2 linked regions of the Homo sapiens genome follow. The protein of the gene in region 1 purifies or fractionates together with the protein of each later gene. This does not show direct contact. Each region holds a gene or a part of one and is shown on either strand. Other genes may lie near its edges.

Region 1 (4,320 bases):
CTGGAGGCCATCCTCAGTTCCTTGTCATATGGGCCTCCCCAACATCACCACCACTTCATCAAAGCCAGCAAGAGAGGAGTCTCCTAGCAAGACACACGTTAGACTTTTATGTCACCTTTATTGCACTGTATTGGTTAGAAGCAAGTCCCAGTCCATACACAAGAGGGGATTGCACAAAGGTGTAACTACCAGGTGGCTGAGATAATGGGAGTTACAAATCCCTTCTGGGAGCTGGAAATCATCTTTCCTTGAAGTTTCTAAAAGCCACTGAACGGTTTGAAGCACTAAAGTAATAGCATATTCTTGTTTTAGAAAGAGCACTAGCCAGAAAGTGTGGAGAACAGATTGGTGGTAGAGAAAACCTTAGTTAGGGAATCCAGTTACCAGGCTGCAACGGCAATCCTAGTGAAATGGTGGTGGCCCCAACTAAGGTAATGCTACTGAGAATAGAGAAAGATGGAAACAATTGAGTTATTTAAGATACAATGAATAGGACTTGGTGATAAATAGATGGTGAGATCAAAGAGTTAAGAATATTCAGGCTCTGGTTTGTGCAAATGAGTGAGTGGGCAGTAATGTCATTCACTGAGAAAAGGAGGGCAGTCTAGACACGAAGCTGGAGGTGGATGGGTTAGTCCTCTAACAGAATTGGAGAGACTGAATAACTCTCCCTTGAAAGAACCACCTTTTATGATATGTTTAAACTAATGCTTATGTCTGCAAAGAACCTATTGCTTAAATTTGTTACAACAGGTTCAATCTTTTCAACTCATTTTAAATACATGAATTTTAGGATTACAAGTAGTCTGTGGATACAGGAACATCTGACTGAGTGTACAAAGAGGGACCTGCTCTTCCTAAAAACATCCTTCGTATGTTTTGAAAGCAAAAGGATGAGTTCTGGGCGCACAAAATATGGATAAAAGCTATGTATTTTAACGTATCTTACACCGGAGTAATTTGGGTTGAACTCAGCAGCCCTAAGCACTGTGCCGCAGGAACTTGTGCAGACAAAGCGCGGGGACGGACCCTGACTCCGGTCCGCGTCTCCGCTGCTCCCTCCCTCCCTTGCTCTGAGGATTAGACACAGGAGATGCTGCCTCATACTCTCGCGAGACGGACGGAGCTCTTCGATCGTCCGATTCTCCCAGCCGCACCACGGGTGCTCCCACCTGCGGAGAACCGGAGTCTGGCGATGCCAAGGCGCTTCTGGGAATTGTAGTTCCGGGCGGGATGAGGGCAGCACGCCTGGCTCCGCTCCTTCTTACGCATGCGCGACTCCGAGCTGGCCAAAGAAGTTCGTCCCCTTTGTGAGGCCCGGGATGGGAGGTGAGTTGCTTGTGGTGATGTCGCTCGTCTCGGCTCGGCCTCGGCGGTGGTTCCCCGGGTCGTTCTGTGCCGAGTCGGGGCTAGAGTGCGCGTTTGTTAAAGGGGCCTCGAGGGCAGACCATGAGCCCTGTCCCTTCTCACTCTGGCCTGATCCTCTCCTCGGGGGACGCGGTTGTGCCACGGGCGGGGTGGTCGCGGGGTTCTGGGCCAGTGCCCCGAGCGCGGCAGAATTTGTCCAAACTCCTGATGCCCCAGCGTCACCTCTTCCAGGTGCCCGGTTCCCCCAGGGACAGCTTCAAGCGGTAGGGACAGACATCTGAGGACCCAGCCTCAGGGATGCTGTCCCCGGGCTTCCAGGCTCCAGCGCCGTAGGACTGAGGCAGACTCCACGGTGAGAAAGAGACCCGATCTAACCCAGGCCTTTCATCAGAGCCCAGGAGGGAAGGCAGGAAGTGGGACCACGAGGCCCGGGGGGCTTCTAACTCGTCTGGCCAGGGAGATCTGAATTGGGGTGAAGAGCAGAATCTCCAGAACAAGGAGGAGGTGGTGATCATGGAGACAGATTTGGCTGAAATGCCTGAGAAAGGAGGTGAGAATTGCGGACGTGTTGAACTTGTAGCGTGGAAGGACGAAATTCCTGCTCCTGAAGGGAAAACGGTTGGCTCAGGGGAGGTGGCTCTTGGCTGGCTGTCTCCATTGTCTTGGGGATGGATGGGCTTTTTAAGTGAGACTGAAGGGCTTGGTATGGGAGCACCGCCCTTTCCATGGCAGCTGGGCACACAGTGGACCCTTCAAAGCTACCCCCAAAATGTGAGTGAAATGTTAACTTCTATGGCAAGAATTCACCTCTTTGGTTGTCAAAAATGTTTTGTTTTACATAGGAGAAAACAGGCGTAGTAGTTAATGACTGACTTCCATTCTACCTGACCAGTTTCATGAAGGTTGTGCTGTGACCTCCTACACCAGAATTCCCCCTGGGGTGGTTGTTAGATTTCTGGATTGTACCCCAGGCTCAACTAATGCTTATTACTTTGAGGTGGGGTCCAGCAATCTACATTATAAATAAGCTTTCAGAGTGAGAACCAACGAGTATAGATTAAACTGGGAAATTTACTGACATATTCTAATTTCTAGATCAGAGGATGCCATCTTACAGAATGTGTTATGATTATAGCAACTGAATTCGAGCCCAGAGTAGCAATATTCCCGCATATCCCGGGAAGAGGGTCCTGGGAGGAGGTCGGTTGTTTTGGGGGTACCTTCAGTCTCAGTGTTTGTAGGCAGCACATATAGTATGTTGAAGTGGTTTTTAGACTTTAAATCTGAGTGGCACGTTAAGCCTAGGTCTCATCATTACTGCTTTCTTGTCGTTAGCTCTGTCTTCCCAGGATTCTCCCCATTTCCAAGAGAAGAGCACAGAAGAGGGAGAAGTGGCTGCTCTGCGCCTCACGGCCAGATCCCAGGTGAGTGAGTGCTGATTATTGGAATTACACCTTGTTTCTTAGAGTACAGATGCACTCCCTTCTTTGTGATGTGGAGTTTCTTTATCCACTAAAGCCCATCTGCAGAGCTGAGTTCTAAATCTAAGAGACTAGTCAGGAGACTAATGGACTCAGAAGAAAATGTTTTCTACTTATAACACTGGATGGATTTCTTCCCTATTTAGTGTTTATTGTCCCTCAACAGATAGGTAAGCAGCATTTCCCTTTCTTAGCCTCCTATGCTCATTTCTGTGCTTGGTAATGTGAGAAACTATTTTAAATATAATGTGGTACATACCTCTTAAAACTTGTTTCTCTAGAGGAAACAGCATGTATGTGACCTTAAGTGGCAATCTAAGAAAGCACTTAAATGCTGAAGTGATTGTAAAAATAATAAATACTCACATAGTTCAAAGAAATACTGGAAAAGGAAAGCCTATGAAGGCGTAATTTAAAGAGTTACAGTTAGAATCCAGCCCTCTGAGATGATGAAAGCTAAGGTATGATCATGTCTGCAACTTACTTTTATATTGTTGGCCCCTCTCTCCCAAAAGGTAAATATGACAAATATTACGAATGTTTGGCTGGGCGTGGTGGCTCATGCCTGTAATTCCAGCACTTTGGGAGGCCAAGGCAGGTAGATGACTAGGTGAGGAGATTGAGACCATCCTTGCTAACACGGTGAAACCCCGTCTCTACTAAAAACACAAAAAATTAGCCAGGCATGGTGGCACGCACCTGTAGTCCCAGCTAGTCTGGAGGCTGGGGCAGGAGAATCACTTGAACCTAGGAGGTGGAGGTTGCAGTAATCCGAGATCGCACCACTGCATTCCAGCCTGGGCAATGAGGGAAACTCTGTCTCAAAAAAAAAAAAAAAGAATTTTTGAATTTAGGCGGTGATTGTACTATATCAGTGATTATTGCATTCATCTTTCAACTTTTGTATGTTTGAAACTTTTATTAAAAGAAGTTAGGGCTGGGCACGGTGGCTCATGCCTGTAATCCCAGCACTTTGAGAGGCTGAGGCGGGCAGATCACCTGAGGTCAGGAGTTCAAGACCAGCCTGACCAACATGGTGAAACCTCGTCTTTACTTAAAATACAAAAATTAGCTGGGCTTGGTGGTGCGCACTTGTAATCCCAGCTACTCCGGAGACTGAGGCATGAGAATCACTTGAACCCAGGAGGCAGAGGTTGCAGTGAGCCCAGATAGGGCTACTGCACTCCAGCCTGGGTGAGAGTGAAACTGTCTCAAAAAAAAAAAAAAAAAGAAGTTGAGGAGGAAAAAAGGAGCTTTCCATGATGTGTGTGGCATACCACAACCCAGAGATTCCTCAATCAGCCTTTCTCTTTGCTTCTGTAATCCAAGGTGTAAAAAGTAGATACTGCACGTTCATAGTGTTTGTAAAAGTCACTTCCTTTATGTACTTGCCTGTCTCCATTGGCTTCTCAACTGTCTTACATTAGTCTTGAAGACTTTATTAGTCAAGAAGCTTTAAGTTGCAGCTGAT
Region 2 (4,583 bases), on another chromosome or scaffold:
TAGCTAGACGATACATAACTAAATTCCACTTGCCTCCTTATAGATAACTTCTCTGATAGGACACCATGGAAAATATTGCTTAAGTTATTTTTCAGGAACTTAGAGTCAGTTCTTGTCCAGTTCAAGCCACCAGCCCTTCATCTTGGCCTGCGTGAGTGTCCAATGGGTGACCTTTTGACATCAGAAGGCCCAAAACTCCACTCTCAGATCATGCTAACGTCACGATTTTGTGAACATGTGTTCTATGAACAGCCATGAAGATTGACTATGCTTGCTCAGATTACCGATTGCCTCACTTTTCCTTACCTCATCTTTCTCTGAACCTTGGACCACCTTCCTCCCCTATCCCATAAGCACTCCTAAAATTCCATCTTTGGAAAGGCACATTTGAGGCCTGTTCTCCAGTCTCCTGTCTTGGCTGCCTTGTGAATACACCCTTTCTCTACTGCAAAACTTGTGCGCCTCAGTGATTGGCATACTGTGTGAAAGACAAATGAGCCTGGTTCCCTGACAGGAGCTGAGCTGTCTCTTCCTGCATGCAGCCAGCAATAAAGATTCCTCTAGGAGAGGTATGTTCTCCACGCCAGAGCGAGAAAATAGCTCTCATCACCAGAGATTTGGAACTGGAGGTGGCATTTGGACTGGAGTAAACATTCTTGCAAAGTAACCATTATCTTCCACCTGTTTTACACCCCACCCCCCATATATCTCCTAGGGGCTCCCCTAGAAATTTTTTACCACCCTAGCCGGATTTTCTTTGTCCTGTCACTTCTTCTTAAATTTATCACTCTTTTTCTAAAAAGTATAAAAGCATCTTGCTTTGGACACTTTCTTCAGGATTCAGTCTCTTAACATCCCCATGTACATGTAAAATTAATAAAATTTGTATACTTTTCTCTTGTTAATCTGCCTAGTGTCAATTTGGCTTCTAGATGCAGCTGATTAGCTCACTAAGAGCTAGAGGGTGTAGGGGGTTGGAGGTGATCTCTGCCTCCCTTATTGGTGAACTTGATTTTTGTAAACACTCAAAAGTCACTTAGGCTAGAGTTGGAGATGGAGATGGTTATTCACTGGGAAGGCCACAAGAGAATGTTTTAAAGTGATGGAAATATTTCATATCTCGATTATGGTGTAAGGACATTTCATTATATATAAATTATATATCAATTTTTTAAAAAGCTCTCAGACCAAGGCTAGTCATTACAGCAAGAAAATAGGCATAGCAAATTTAAAACTTTGGAGAAATATATAGAATATTTGCATATGGTGATTCTGATTTGCTTTAAAAGTGACATGATTAATGTATTTAGACAAAAATACTCTTCGTTTTTCTTTGCTTTTATTTACGATCAGGATACAAGAATTCTACGCTGCTGCCAAATAAATGACTAGTTAAAATTAACTAACTGAATCCTTAACAACCATTCTAAGAGGCAGATATTATTATCCCACTTTATGCGTGAGGGCCCAGAACCCTGGCAAGGGCGGCACACTCAGTACGCTCTTCAAGCATCTGGGCACACCCGGTCCACTACAGTCCTACAAAGTCGGACGTGAGCACGGGCGAAGGCGTCAGCCGGGGCCACACGGGAGTCACTGACCACAGCCAGGCGAGAGCCGGCTTTCCGGTGCCGCCACATTCCGGGCACCAGGCTCCGGGCTCTTCAGAGCATTTGGGGCGGGCGACGGAGGTCCCGTCCACTCTCGCTTGGGTGCAGAAGGGCGCGGCGGTGCCAGGAAGCCGCCTTGGAGGCTCCAAGATTAGCTCACTCAGCGCGGCCAAGCGCAGGTGCGGGGGCCCTCGCCGCCACCCTGCTTATCTGGGGACAGTCCCGGAACCCGGTGACCCGGCTCCGCCCCAACCCGCGCCCTCGTCCACCCGCAGCAGCCAAGGCCTCTTCCCCGGCCCCGGGAGCCCGCGCCACGCCCGTCGCTCGCGCGTTCCAGTCCAGGCTACAGCAGGTATCGCGATCCCGGCCCTCGGCCCCGCGCTCCCCTCCCCCGCCCCTGGCGCTCTCCGAGTGTGGCCGACCATGAGGATTCCCAGTCTTGCAAATCGTGGGAGCGTGTCAACCGCCCCGTTTCTTTCCAAAGCCGGGCATGGCCCGGAAGCAGCTGATCAGATCTTAGTTCTGAATGTATAGTTCGGGTACGAGAATGTGACCCGTGAAAGTTCAGAGGAGTTAAGTAATTACAGCGTTCTGAAAGCGAACGTTAAAGGGAATTTACAACCGAAAAAAGATGCCGGTCTTCTTCCCCCATCCCAGCTTGCAATTCACAGAAGCACACATTAGGGTGGAGCCAGAAGGAATTACGGAAAGGACAATGAGGACATTGAGAGGGAGGGTATGGGGGGTTAAAGTTAGTCCTCCGAGGCCAAGAAGCAGAGTGTCTTGGCCTAGTGTCTGAAAATCGCAGCGCAGGACGGAACTTCCGAGAGCCTATACCTCCCCACTTCCCCCTCCAGTTTACAGATGGGCAAACCGCTGTCCCGGGTGTCTGTCAGGTCTAGTAGCCCAGAATCTCAGTGCCTAGGCTTCACTGTAAATAATAAACTATGTAAATAACATTTACAAATATCCTTTGTGAGCTCAGAAACTCAGCATTACCAGTAACTGGGTAGTGGAACGCATCCATCTTCGTCGTTTACTCCTTCTCCAGGGGCTCTCCAGCCTGCATTCCATGGCCAACAGCAGTGCAGCTGCAGAAGCACTTCTGGAAGCCTCCTGACTTGAACTAGACCTTGGGTAAATAGGGTTTAGATAAGTGGAGGGGAGGGAAAAGTTTCACCTGAGGGGAGAATGAGCTAGTCTGCCAGACCCTTATAAAAGTATTGGCCTGGATGGGATGGAGGGCTTTGACCTGAAAGCCACAGGGAGAAGGGAACCCTGAGGAATTGGCTGAAAGAGGGGGGTTCTTAGGAAATGCACCAACAGGGAAGCCAGCGCTTTACCAGGGATTTCATTCATGGTGGGTATATTATTAATAGAGATTCGAATTCTCTAGAAGCTGATCATTTCTAAGAGAAACAATATTTAAACATTACTGTCGAAGGAAAGGTTGTGGGGAGAAAATGTTCTAGTTCTAAAACAGAACACCCATTTTCCCTGGTTGTATATGAATAATACAAATATGTCAAAAATCAAGCTTACTATGTGCCAAGCACTCTAAGAACTTTTTTTTTTTTTTTTTTTTTGAGACAGAGTCTTGGTCTGTCGCCCAGGCTGGAGTGCAGTGGCACAATCTCGGCTCACTGCAACCTCTGCCTCCTGGGTTCAAGCGATTCTCCTGCCTCAGCCTCCTGAGTAGCTGGGACTACAGGCATGCACCACCATACCCGGCTAATTTTTGTATTTTTAGTAGAGATGGGGTTTCACCCTGTTGGCCAGGCTGGTCTCGATCTCCTGACCTCAGATGAGCCACCCACCTCGGCCTCCCAAAGTGCTGAGATTACAGGCGTGAGCCACCGCGTCCAGCCAACTTTATGAAATTTAATTTATTTATTCCTAACAACAAATCCAGGAGGTTGTTACTTTTTAAAATCAGTGCCATTTTATAAATGTGGAGGCTGAGGCACCAAGAGGTTGCCCAAGGTAAGAAGATCTGGACTGAGGCTGAGTGGTGTGATACCAAGCATCCTGGCTTGGCTGGAATCAGATTTGGGTTCCAGTACTTCCACTCCTCTTGTTTTGTGAATTTAGCTTATCTGAGCCTTCATTTTCTTATCTGTGAAATGCATACTGTAATCCCTCCCTATTAGTGAGACAATGAATGTGCAGGTGCTTTGTGAACTACACATTGTGACACTAATAGGAAGTGTAAAGCCTTGCACTTCTAAGGCCAAATCCCAGCTAAGAAGAGCAAATGATGAGCTGGGTTTGACTTGCAGAATTTAGTGGGCTTACTACTCACCAAGAGGCAAGAGATACAGTTGTAGTTATGATGATAGACTTTGGAGTCAGATGGACCTATGTTGGGATCCCAGCCCTGCCACTTATTGGCTCTGTGACCTGAGACAAGTCACTGAACATTTCTCAAACTGCATTATCTCCATGGTCCTCCATTTGTTCATACATAAAATGGGCTTTATATTCCTCATAGAGCAGTGATGAGGATTACATGAGATGCCACTGATACAATGTCTGCAAGTAGTGAGTGCTCAATAAAACATAGCTAGAGTCGTTGTTTTTTCTGATTCTTCTTGCTCCTCATCCTATTTCCTTTGTCTTAATTTCCCCACAAAGACACCCTCTCCAGAGCCCAGCAATTGTGAGGGACTGATGGAGAAGTATGTGGCTGCTATGGTGCTGAGTGCAGCTGGAGATGCCCTGGGGTACTACAATGGGAAGTGGGAGTTCCTCCAGGATGGGGAGAAGATACACCGGCAGTTGGCCCAGCTGGGCGGCTTGGATGCCCTAGACGTGGGAAGGTGGAGAGTTAGTGACGACACAGTGATGCACTTGGCCACAGCAGAAGCTCTTGTGGAAGCTGGGAAAGCCCCTAAGTTGACTCAACTGTATTACCTCCTTGCTAAGCATTACCAAGACTGCATGGAAGACATGGATGGGCGGGCACCAGGTGAG

What was found.
Region 2: the proteins of ZNF286A (region 1) and ADPRH purify together in Homo sapiens (affinity purification with mass spectrometry; one large-scale study listed by BioGRID and IntAct). This does not show direct contact.

What each region holds. Positions count from the first base shown.
Region 1 is NC_000017.11:15,698,449-15,702,768, forward strand, and holds the start of ZNF286A (zinc finger protein 286A), read left to right. Parts: upstream 1-1,303; 5' UTR 1,304-1,322; coding exon of another isoform or gene 1,323-1,329; intron 1,330-1,599; exon of another isoform or gene 1,600-1,686; 5' UTR 1,687-1,759; coding exon of another isoform or gene 1,760-1,881; coding exon 1,882-1,918; intron 1,919-2,703; coding exon 2,704-2,792; intron 2,793-4,320. UniProt on the Homo sapiens protein: May be involved in transcriptional regulation.
Region 2 is NC_000003.12:119,577,890-119,582,472, forward strand, and holds the start of ADPRH (ADP-ribosylarginine hydrolase), read left to right. Parts: upstream 1-1,602; 5' UTR 1,603-1,962; exon of another isoform or gene 1,963-2,661; 5' UTR 2,662-2,747; intron 2,748-4,244; 5' UTR 4,245-4,280; coding exon 4,281-4,578; intron 4,579-4,583.